Linked DNA regions of Homo sapiens. The protein of the gene in region 2 interacts with the protein of the main gene of each other region in a pairwise test. Each region holds a gene or a part of one and is shown on either strand. Other genes may lie near its edges.

Evidence for each region. The genes of interacting proteins can lie anywhere in the genome.
Region 1: the proteins of SYK (region 2) and MICOS10-NBL1 interact in binary tests that used the Homo sapiens proteins (3 or more experiments, as listed by UniProt).

Annotation. Positions count from the first base shown.
Region 1 is NC_000001.11:19,603,479-19,606,978, reverse strand, and holds part of MICOS10-NBL1 (neuroblastoma suppressor of tumorigenicity 1 isoform a precursor), read right to left. Parts: intron 1-3,500. UniProt on the Homo sapiens protein: Possible candidate as a tumor suppressor gene of neuroblastoma. May play an important role in preventing cells from entering the final stage (G1/S) of the transformation process.
Region 2 is NC_000009.12:90,807,374-90,812,767, forward strand, and holds part of SYK (tyrosine-protein kinase SYK), read left to right. Parts: intron 1-5,394. UniProt on the Homo sapiens protein: Non-receptor tyrosine kinase which mediates signal transduction downstream of a variety of transmembrane receptors including classical immunoreceptors like the B-cell receptor (BCR).

The sequences.
Region 1 (3,500 bases), on a different chromosome or scaffold from region 2:
ATCTATCAGATGAACTGATACTTAAAGAAAAACAATAATTTGCTTTCTTTTTCCATGACTATTCAATGGCCTCTTTTAGTATTTTTTTAAACATTAAAATGGCTTCAAACAATTTAACTAGACTTGATTATTGAATGAATACACAAAATCTGCTGGTTAACTTTAATTCTAAGGCAAGTCAGCTTCTAAGTCTTTTACTGTCCTACTTTTTTTCTTTCTTTTTTTTTTTGGAGACAGAGCCTTCTTGTTCTGTCGCCCAGGTTGGAGTGCAATGGCCTGATCTTGGCTCACTGCAACCTCACCTTCCCAGGTTCAAGTGATTCTCCTGCCTCAGCCTCCTGAGTAGCTGGGATTACAGGCATGCGCCACCACACTCAGCCAATTTTTATATTTTTAGTAGAGATGGGGTTTCACCATATTGGCCAGGCTGGTCTCAAACTCCTGACCTCAGGTGACCCACCCTCCTCAGCCTCCCAAAGCGCTGGGATTACAGGTGTGAGCCACCGTGCCCAGCCCTGGCCATACTTTCGTAACAAGGAAGAAGCAAGGCCGAATCCTTTCTTTTCATAAAGATGAATGCATGATAAACCAATAACTTTCATCTGTTAACTGAGCTGCATATAATTAGAGACCTATCTCAAGACATACTAGAAATTAAGAAACTACAAAATGTTATTCCCCTCTCTGCCTCTCCTATTTGTCAAAAGCAACACCATGCTCATTTATGTAGGCTTGGCACCACCTGACTCCTCCCACTCCTGAGCCTGCATTTCAAGTTCTGTAAATATAAACTCTGTACTAGCATCATTATATCTCTCTTTTCCACTCCTGCTGCTCCCCTCTTAGTTCATGCTTCCTCTCATTTGATCAGCTCATCTTTGGCAAGATTTTGCAATAATATACTAAGCTAGCTCCCTGCCCCCACATCCTAGCACTCCAGAGAGTTATTCATTCTCATCACATCAGTGATCTTTCTGAAATCAGAAATTCAACCACGTCACTTTTCAGCTTACCATTCAATGAATTTCTTCGAATGCTAAACATAGAATTGCCACACAACCAAGCAATTCCACTCCTAGGTATATATCCAAGAGAGATGAAAACATGTCCACATAAAAACTGGGGGGCTGAGCACCATGGCATGCACCTGTAATCCAAGCTACTCAGGAGGCTGAGGCAGGAGGATCACTTGAGCCCAGGAATTTGAGACCAGCCTGGGCAAAACAGACCCCATCTCAAAACAAAACAAAAATGTGTACACTTGATCACAGCAGCATTATTCATAAAATTTAAAAGCGTAAACAAACTAAATGTCCACCAACTGACAAATGGATAAACAAGATGTAGTACAAATACACCACACAACATTATTTGGTAACAAAAAAGAATGATGAACAGATAAATGCAACAGCATGGATGAATACTGAAAACACTACCTAAGTCAAAGAAGCCGATACAAAAGACTACATATTATATAACTCTTTATGTAAAATGTCCAGCATAGGAGACTCCACAGAGACAAAAAGTAAATTGGTGGTTGCCTGGGGCTAAGGTTGGGGTGAGAGTTTGGGAATAGGAGCAGCTGCATCCAGTGTTTCTTTTGGGGGAAGCTAAAAATATTCTAAAATTAGATTGTGATAATTGCACAATTTGGTGAAAAAACTAAAATTGTACACTTTAAATAGGAAAATGTATGCCATGAAATATATCTCAACAAAGTAGTTTAAAAAATCTCCACAACTTCCTACACCCTTCCACCTTTCCTGCCTCATCTTTTGTCCCTCCCCACATAAATCCTTTAACCCCAAAGGATAAAATCTCCTGCATTAACATGTGATAGCTACAAGAATGGGGTTCACCTTCCTACCCTTGCAGCTGTAGCCTGTGATCCTAAAGGAGGGATTCTGCCACCATGAGCTTCCATTGTAAAAATGGAGAAATATCTTACAAGGATATGAGATAATGATGTAAAATATAACATGCTCAGCACCGTGCCTGGCATGCGGTTAAGTGCTCAATAAGTGATGGTCATTCTCATCATTCCCAGAAGGAACCAAAGTATCCCTCTCCTTTGGGACACCTTCAAGGAGTGAAACACACTCCCCCACCTGGTCCACCTATTAAATATCTGCATATTTTCCAAAATGGGGGTCAAATGTCCCTCATCCTTTTCACATTCCTCAAGGCAGTAAGCCCCTCGAGGGTAGGGCCAGTGCCTATTCACCTGTGTGCCACCCCCTGCCAAGGCTTACCACAATACCTGGTACTAAATTGTTTCAAGAAGTACACATTAATGATTACTATTACATATATAAACATGAATATTGATTATCAGACCTACAATAGCCACGACCCACAATAAGACCCACCTACGACCCACAATAGCCAAGATCAGGGTAAATGTGTTAATCATTTTAACTCTTTTACCTCTACTCTTCAGCGACAGCCTCCAGTTTTTATTTATTTATTTGAGACCAAGTCTCACTCTGTTGCCCAGGCTGGAGTGCAGTGGCTGCATCTTAGCTCACTGCAACTTGCTACTCCCGGGTTCCAGCGATTCTCATGCCTCAGCTTCTCGAGTAGCTGGGACTACAGGTGCGTACCACCACACCTGGCTAATTTTTTGTATGTCTAGTAGAGACTGGGTTTCACCATTGTTGGCCAGGCTGGTCTCAAACTCCTGGCCTCAAGCGATCCACCCACCTCAGCCTCCCAAAGTGTTGGGACTATAGGCATGAGCCACCACACTCAGCCTCCAGTTAATAATATTTAGTAAGTACAGGCAACGTCCTAACTGCTCTAGAGATTATCTCATTTTATCCTCACTTGCAACTACCCTCTGGGGCAAGTACTATCATTTTATAGATAAGAAAACTGAGGCTGGGAGGTATTTACTGGTACATTTATTTTGAATGAAAAAAATGAGGAAAAGAAAAACAAAATGACTGTGTATGCCACTACAGTTCACTGAATTGAATACATTCTAGGGGCTCCTTGTAAATGTCCATGGCTTGCCTTTTTTCTTGCTACTAACGGAAATCACTGTTGTGCTTGACACACCTGGCTTGCCAGGACAGTCTTTTCCAGGAAACTCTCCAGCTTTGGGACCTCTCCCTCCACCATGACATCTCCTCCCTGCCTTCATCCCAGCCAGCCCTCTGATTCATTCTCATCAATGATTTTTCTGAAATCAAAAATTCAACCATGTCACTCTTCAGCTAACCATTCAATGAATTTCTTCAAATGCTAAAATACAGAGTTGCCATACAACCTGACTTCTATTAGAATAAACTAGAATTCTAAACCAATACATGGATTAGTAAGACTAGATATTCCTTACTCTGGTCTCACATTGGAGCAAAACAAAGAGAAAAGGGACACAGCCAATTTTAAAGCTATCCAAGTCACACTAGGGATTCCCAGGACCTCCGTATGAATCCAGGAAGTGCCAGAATCAGATTTTCCTCAAAGCGTCCTCTGGCAAATCCATAGTCTGAGGA
Region 2 (5,394 bases):
TCGAATATTTTTGTAGCTACGGGTTGAGAGTAAGGGTCTGAGGCCCCACTGGGTTCAAGTCCCCCTTCTTTATTTGTAAGCTCTTCTTTTGTAAATGGAGCAGTCACAGGGGGCTTCACTCTGATACCTAATGGAGACCGTGCCTGCAGTGCTCGGTACCTGGTATGTGGTTAAAACTGACATAACTGTCAGAGCCTCTCCCAGGCGGGCTGACTCTGGGAATCTGCCCTGCAGTCTTGGAGGGAAGGCACGTCCAGATAGGTTTGATGAGCAACTACAATTGCCAAAGTTAGTTTCTCTGACCTCCAAGATGGGAGAACTTTCTAATATTTTCTTTTAGGAAAGTTGTCCATTGCATAACTGATACACGAGTACATATCCTTTAGTACAGGATTCAGATACAGCGAGCAACAGAAAAGCCCTTCTTAACCTCCACCCTCAGTCCCAGCCCTGCCCCCAGTCCCACTGTTGGGGAGCAGTTGGAGCTCTAACCTCTCTTCTTTCGTCCTGTGCATTCATGTGTGCATGTGTGCACGTCTTCAGAAGATATAATGGTGGGCTGTGTATGTCTTCTTAATACCTTTATCACTCTGGAACTTTCTTTTTATTAATATGTTGGGGTGCGGGGAGGTCTCCATATTCAGTGATTATTGTAATTTTTATGACAGTCCAGAATAGGCATGTCGATTTTTTTTAATTTTTGATATTATAAACAGTGCTGCAATGAATGCACTTTTTCTTTTCATTCTTTCCCTCTCCTTTGCCATTTGCACTGTGTTTTCATGAAACCATCAGGTTAATCTTTATCTCAAGGAAGCCCTTCATCCCTGTCCATCCTGTTCTTCAGTCCATCCACTTAGTTTTCCTATGATTATTTTAGCAAGCAGGTGGTTAATTTCCAAGGAATGTAGTTACTTCTTTGGGATTTTTTTAAGTGATGTATTAGTTTTCTGTGTATTTTATTACTTGTTTGAGTGCACCATTACCCCCGTCTCCCGGGGTATCAGTTCATCTGCTTGCATGCTTGGTGCCTCTCTCTCCTGCTGTCAGCTTTCCTGATGTGCTGGGTATTTCCACGTGTGTGTTGGTTTTTTTTTTTTTTTAGGTACCCTAGGCATTAGTCTTTTAAGGCTGCATTCTTGCAGCCTGTCCCACATGAGATAGGAGGAGGGCAAGACCTGGATGTGCACAGGGCAGGATGGGCCCATAACTGGTCTGTGTGGTGTGTGGGTGGCAGGAACTCCCTGTTCTTTGTGGGTATGGCCATGCCTTCCCTATTCAAACGAAGCCACACACCTGTCTTTTCCTGCGAGGCGTCTTCTGCTGCTTTCTTGGAGCTGGGGAGCATCTACTCTTCCCTTGTCCTCCCGCTCCTCCCTGTTCCTCCCTCAGGTCTCTGTCGCTTCTAAGGCACTCCACCCTTGGTCTTCTCCCACCTTGCACCCCCCACACTGCTGCCTGCCTGCACAGGGGGACTGTGATTGCCCCCTTCAGTGTGAGCCTGACCTGCTTCATGCCTTTCAAGGAGAGCATTCATTGCCAAGCTACTCATGGAACATCTCCTCAGATCCTCAGCGTGCTATGACTTCATTTTCTGTAATACTGTTTTTCATGTTTCTTCCCCTTCTCTGCATTTATAGCTGTGCATATGCTTGAGGTGGAAGGCCACCACTTCCTTTTGGTTAACAACACCAATCAGCTGATGGTCATGGCTACGTGAAGGAACTCACAGTGAGGGCTCAGGAAGAGCCTGGCTAGAGCAGGCTGCATCGCAGGCCTTGGCGTTAGGTTCCCCAAATCACTGCTGGTGATCTTGTAGCTCTGTCATGAAGTCTGTCCTGCTTATTAGGATACCGAGGGTCCAAATTCATAGATTCTTAGAAGCCTGTTTAAATATGCAGAGTATCTAATTCAACCCGATTAGAAACGGGCTCAGAAAGGTGAAGGGATTTGTCCAACCACTGAGTGATGCTGCTGGGATTAGAACTCTCAAAACTAGGTGTTTCTAATCCAGAACCAGAATCCCTATCCACTACTCTAATAAGGCGTAAAAGAGGATCTGCTGTCCTGCCTAATTGGTGGGCAGGTTTGGAGTCCTGTCAGCAGCTCAGGAAAGCCTGGAGAGGCAGAGGGAGGACACAGGCTCAGTGTCAGACATGCCAATTTTACTCATCACCAATGGTTACACAAAACTTGTTTTGATCTTTGTGGCTTTTGCATTGAGAAGTTAAGCATATACAATAGGAATTAGACACAATCCCAAACCAATGAGAGACTCAAGTGAGAAGAGCTGAAGCTTTTATGCATGCCTTCCTTCCATAGAGATAAATTTACTATCCAGAGTGAACTAGAGCCTCGTGGAAAGTGAGTGCCGAGCCCCTAGCTGTGAGTGTCTCTGTCCTTCCCACATCAGACCTCCATGTCTGTGGCTGTCCCCCTACGGGGCAGAACTGCTGCTCTCTGCTTGTGTTGCTGTCGTGAGGGTTGGGAGTGGACAGGTGTGGACAGATCTCAGACCCGTTTCCCTCCTGTTATGGAAATGTTTGTGAGGCAGGTGGGACTTCAATGATTTGGTCAAGGAAAGGCAGCTTGGCAGCTGGGGAGAAGGGCTCAGGCTAGAAAGGCAAGCGTTTGTGAGGGATGATTTCCCCAAAGAAGCCAGCAGTGTGTAAGGTATTCCCCGGAGCTTGTTTCTTCTCAGAAGACTCTGGAAGCTGTGTCAGTGTCTGTTATGGAGGAATGGAGTATCAGTCCGATCAGGCTTTCATAACAAAGCACCACATACTGAACGGCTTGAACAGCCCAATGTGTCGCCTCCCAACTCTGAGCCAAAGAGACTGAGGTCAGGATGTCCCAGGGTGGCTCCTTCCAAGGGTTGGGTGGGACAATGTGCCCCCAGCATCTCCTTGGCTTGTGGGTGACCATCTCCAGCTCCACATGGCATGCTCCCTGTGTGCCTGTCTCTGGGTCCAGATCTCCTTTTCATGTAAGGACACCAGTCATGTTGGAGTAGGGCTCACCCTAAGGACTTCAATGGGGCGTAATCACTGCTGTAAAGACCCTGTCTTTAAATAAGGTCACACTCAGAGGGGTTAGGGAGTTAGGACATCAACATTTGAACTTGGGGGGACACAATTCAACCTGTAACAAATGTGTGAGTGAAGACTGGCACCTCCCCACGATGGCCTTTCTGTGATGCCATCAAGAGCACCAGGGAGCTCTCCAGATATGGAGATGGACAGATGTCTAAGGCCCCTGAAATGAGCCTGCTGTACAGATGATTCCAGAACTCTGTCAGTGTGAAGACCAAACACAATTAAGCACATTAAAATACTTACGGTAAAGTGTTTCTTTCACTTTAGATGTGCAAAAACTTAAAGAGAGAGAGACTTATGAGAAGACTCAGGGAAGAAATGTAAGATAAAGGTGTTAAGGGAGACAAACTCCACAAAATTGTAAAGTGAAGCTGCTGTGGGGAGTAGAGCCCAGACCCAGATAATATGCAGGCATGGGTCCAAGGGAGGCTTTGCACACCAGGCGGGGGAGGTGCAGGGCCATGGATGAATGGTCTTGGGAAAACGGCAAATCGTTTGGAAAAAAAAACAAAACTTTGCTCTTTATATCAAAATAAATTCCAAGCTGAACAAAGAATAAAAATATAGCATTGAAATAATGAAGCTATTAAAAGAAAACTTAGGTGAGTTTTAAAATAATTGTGAAGAGGCCTGTCTAAATGTGATAAAACATATGAATTTATATTCACACTCATCACAAGATTGATAAGCATGATTTCCTAAAATTTTAAGCAAATCCCCATAAAATGAAAAAATATACAAATAAGTGAAAAAAATGGTAAGATATATTTAATTTCAATACTTGTGGTAAAGCATCAATAGCTTTAATATGCAGCGAGTTTTTTCAAATCAATAAGAAAAAAGACACAGATGGGTGCTGACAGGGCCGTTTGGTAATATCTTTTAAAATTTAAAACACAAGTGCTTTCACTCAACAACTTCACTTTTAGGAACCTATCACACATATAAATTGACAAAAGTGGAGAAATATTCATTGCAACATTTTATTTTATAATAGCAAAAAAAAATCACTAAGGGAAGTACAGTTGATTCATATGTTGGAATCCTATGCAGTCTTCTAAAAAATGTGGAATTTATTTCATACACCAAATATAACAATGTCCAAGTTCTACTAGTGAAAAAGCAAGATGTAACATATCATTGTATTTGTTTAAAAAACTCATGCTGGGTTGGGTGCAATGACTCATGCCTGTAATTCCAGCACTTTGGGAAGCCAAGGTGGGTGGATTGCTTGAGCTCAGGAGTTTGAAGCCAGCCTGGGCAATATGGCAAAACCCCACCTCTATGACAAATACCAAAAAAAAAAACTAGCCTGGACTGGTGGTGTGCACCTGTAGTCCCAGCTACATGGGGGCGCTGAGGTGGGGGGATCACTTGAGTCCAAGAGGTCAAGGCTGCAGTGAGCTGAGATCATGCCACTGCACACCAGCCTGGGTGACAGAGCAAGACCCTGTCTCAAAAATAATAAGTGAAAAAAAAAAAAAAAACCTAAAAATCTCCCACATGCACATAATAATTTAAGTGATATTGGATTGTCGTTTACTACTTATACATGCATTTCTGCCTATACATATTCTATCCAGTGTGTACACATGTGTATGTAAATATGTAGCATGATCTGGAAGTGTAAGCACCAAATTAAGAACAGCAGCTTTGGGGGGAGGGGAATAGAATTGGTTTAGAGAAAAAGGTGAAATTAACATTTTTATTCTGCCTACTTCAGTGTGCCTGCAGTATTTACAACGATCAGGAGTGTGTACTTTTTTCAATTTAGAAAAATGATAATAATAAGGTTTGCTTGGGGGGAAAGGGTAAGTAGGATGAGACCAGGAAGAGAAGTAACTTAGAAACACATCATGCATCATGACTGCTGGCACCATTCTGTCCTCCAATGAAGAGCGAGGCTTTGAGAGGTTCAGCAGCTCACCCAAAGGTGTACAGCCATGGTCTCAAACATGCTTGCACCCTGCTGTCACTCAGGTCCTGAAGCCCAGGCCACCTCCAAGGACACTGGGGTGCTCTGGGGTGCAGCCTGCCTTCAGATGTTTCTTAAAGCCACTCCTACTCCACCCCACCCAGTGCAGGAGCCAAGATTGAGGACCACCATTTGACAGCTAGTTCATAGGATTTCATAGCACACAAACACATCTTTAAAGGCTGATGAGGTTTCCACCAAATTGGGATTTATTGGTATGCTGGGTATAATGGCAGCTGTGTGTGCCTTTGACTGCAAAGACACTGGGCAGGCCAGAGTGGCTCCTCCCCATTTGATATGTGTGTGTGTGTGTGTGTGTGTGTG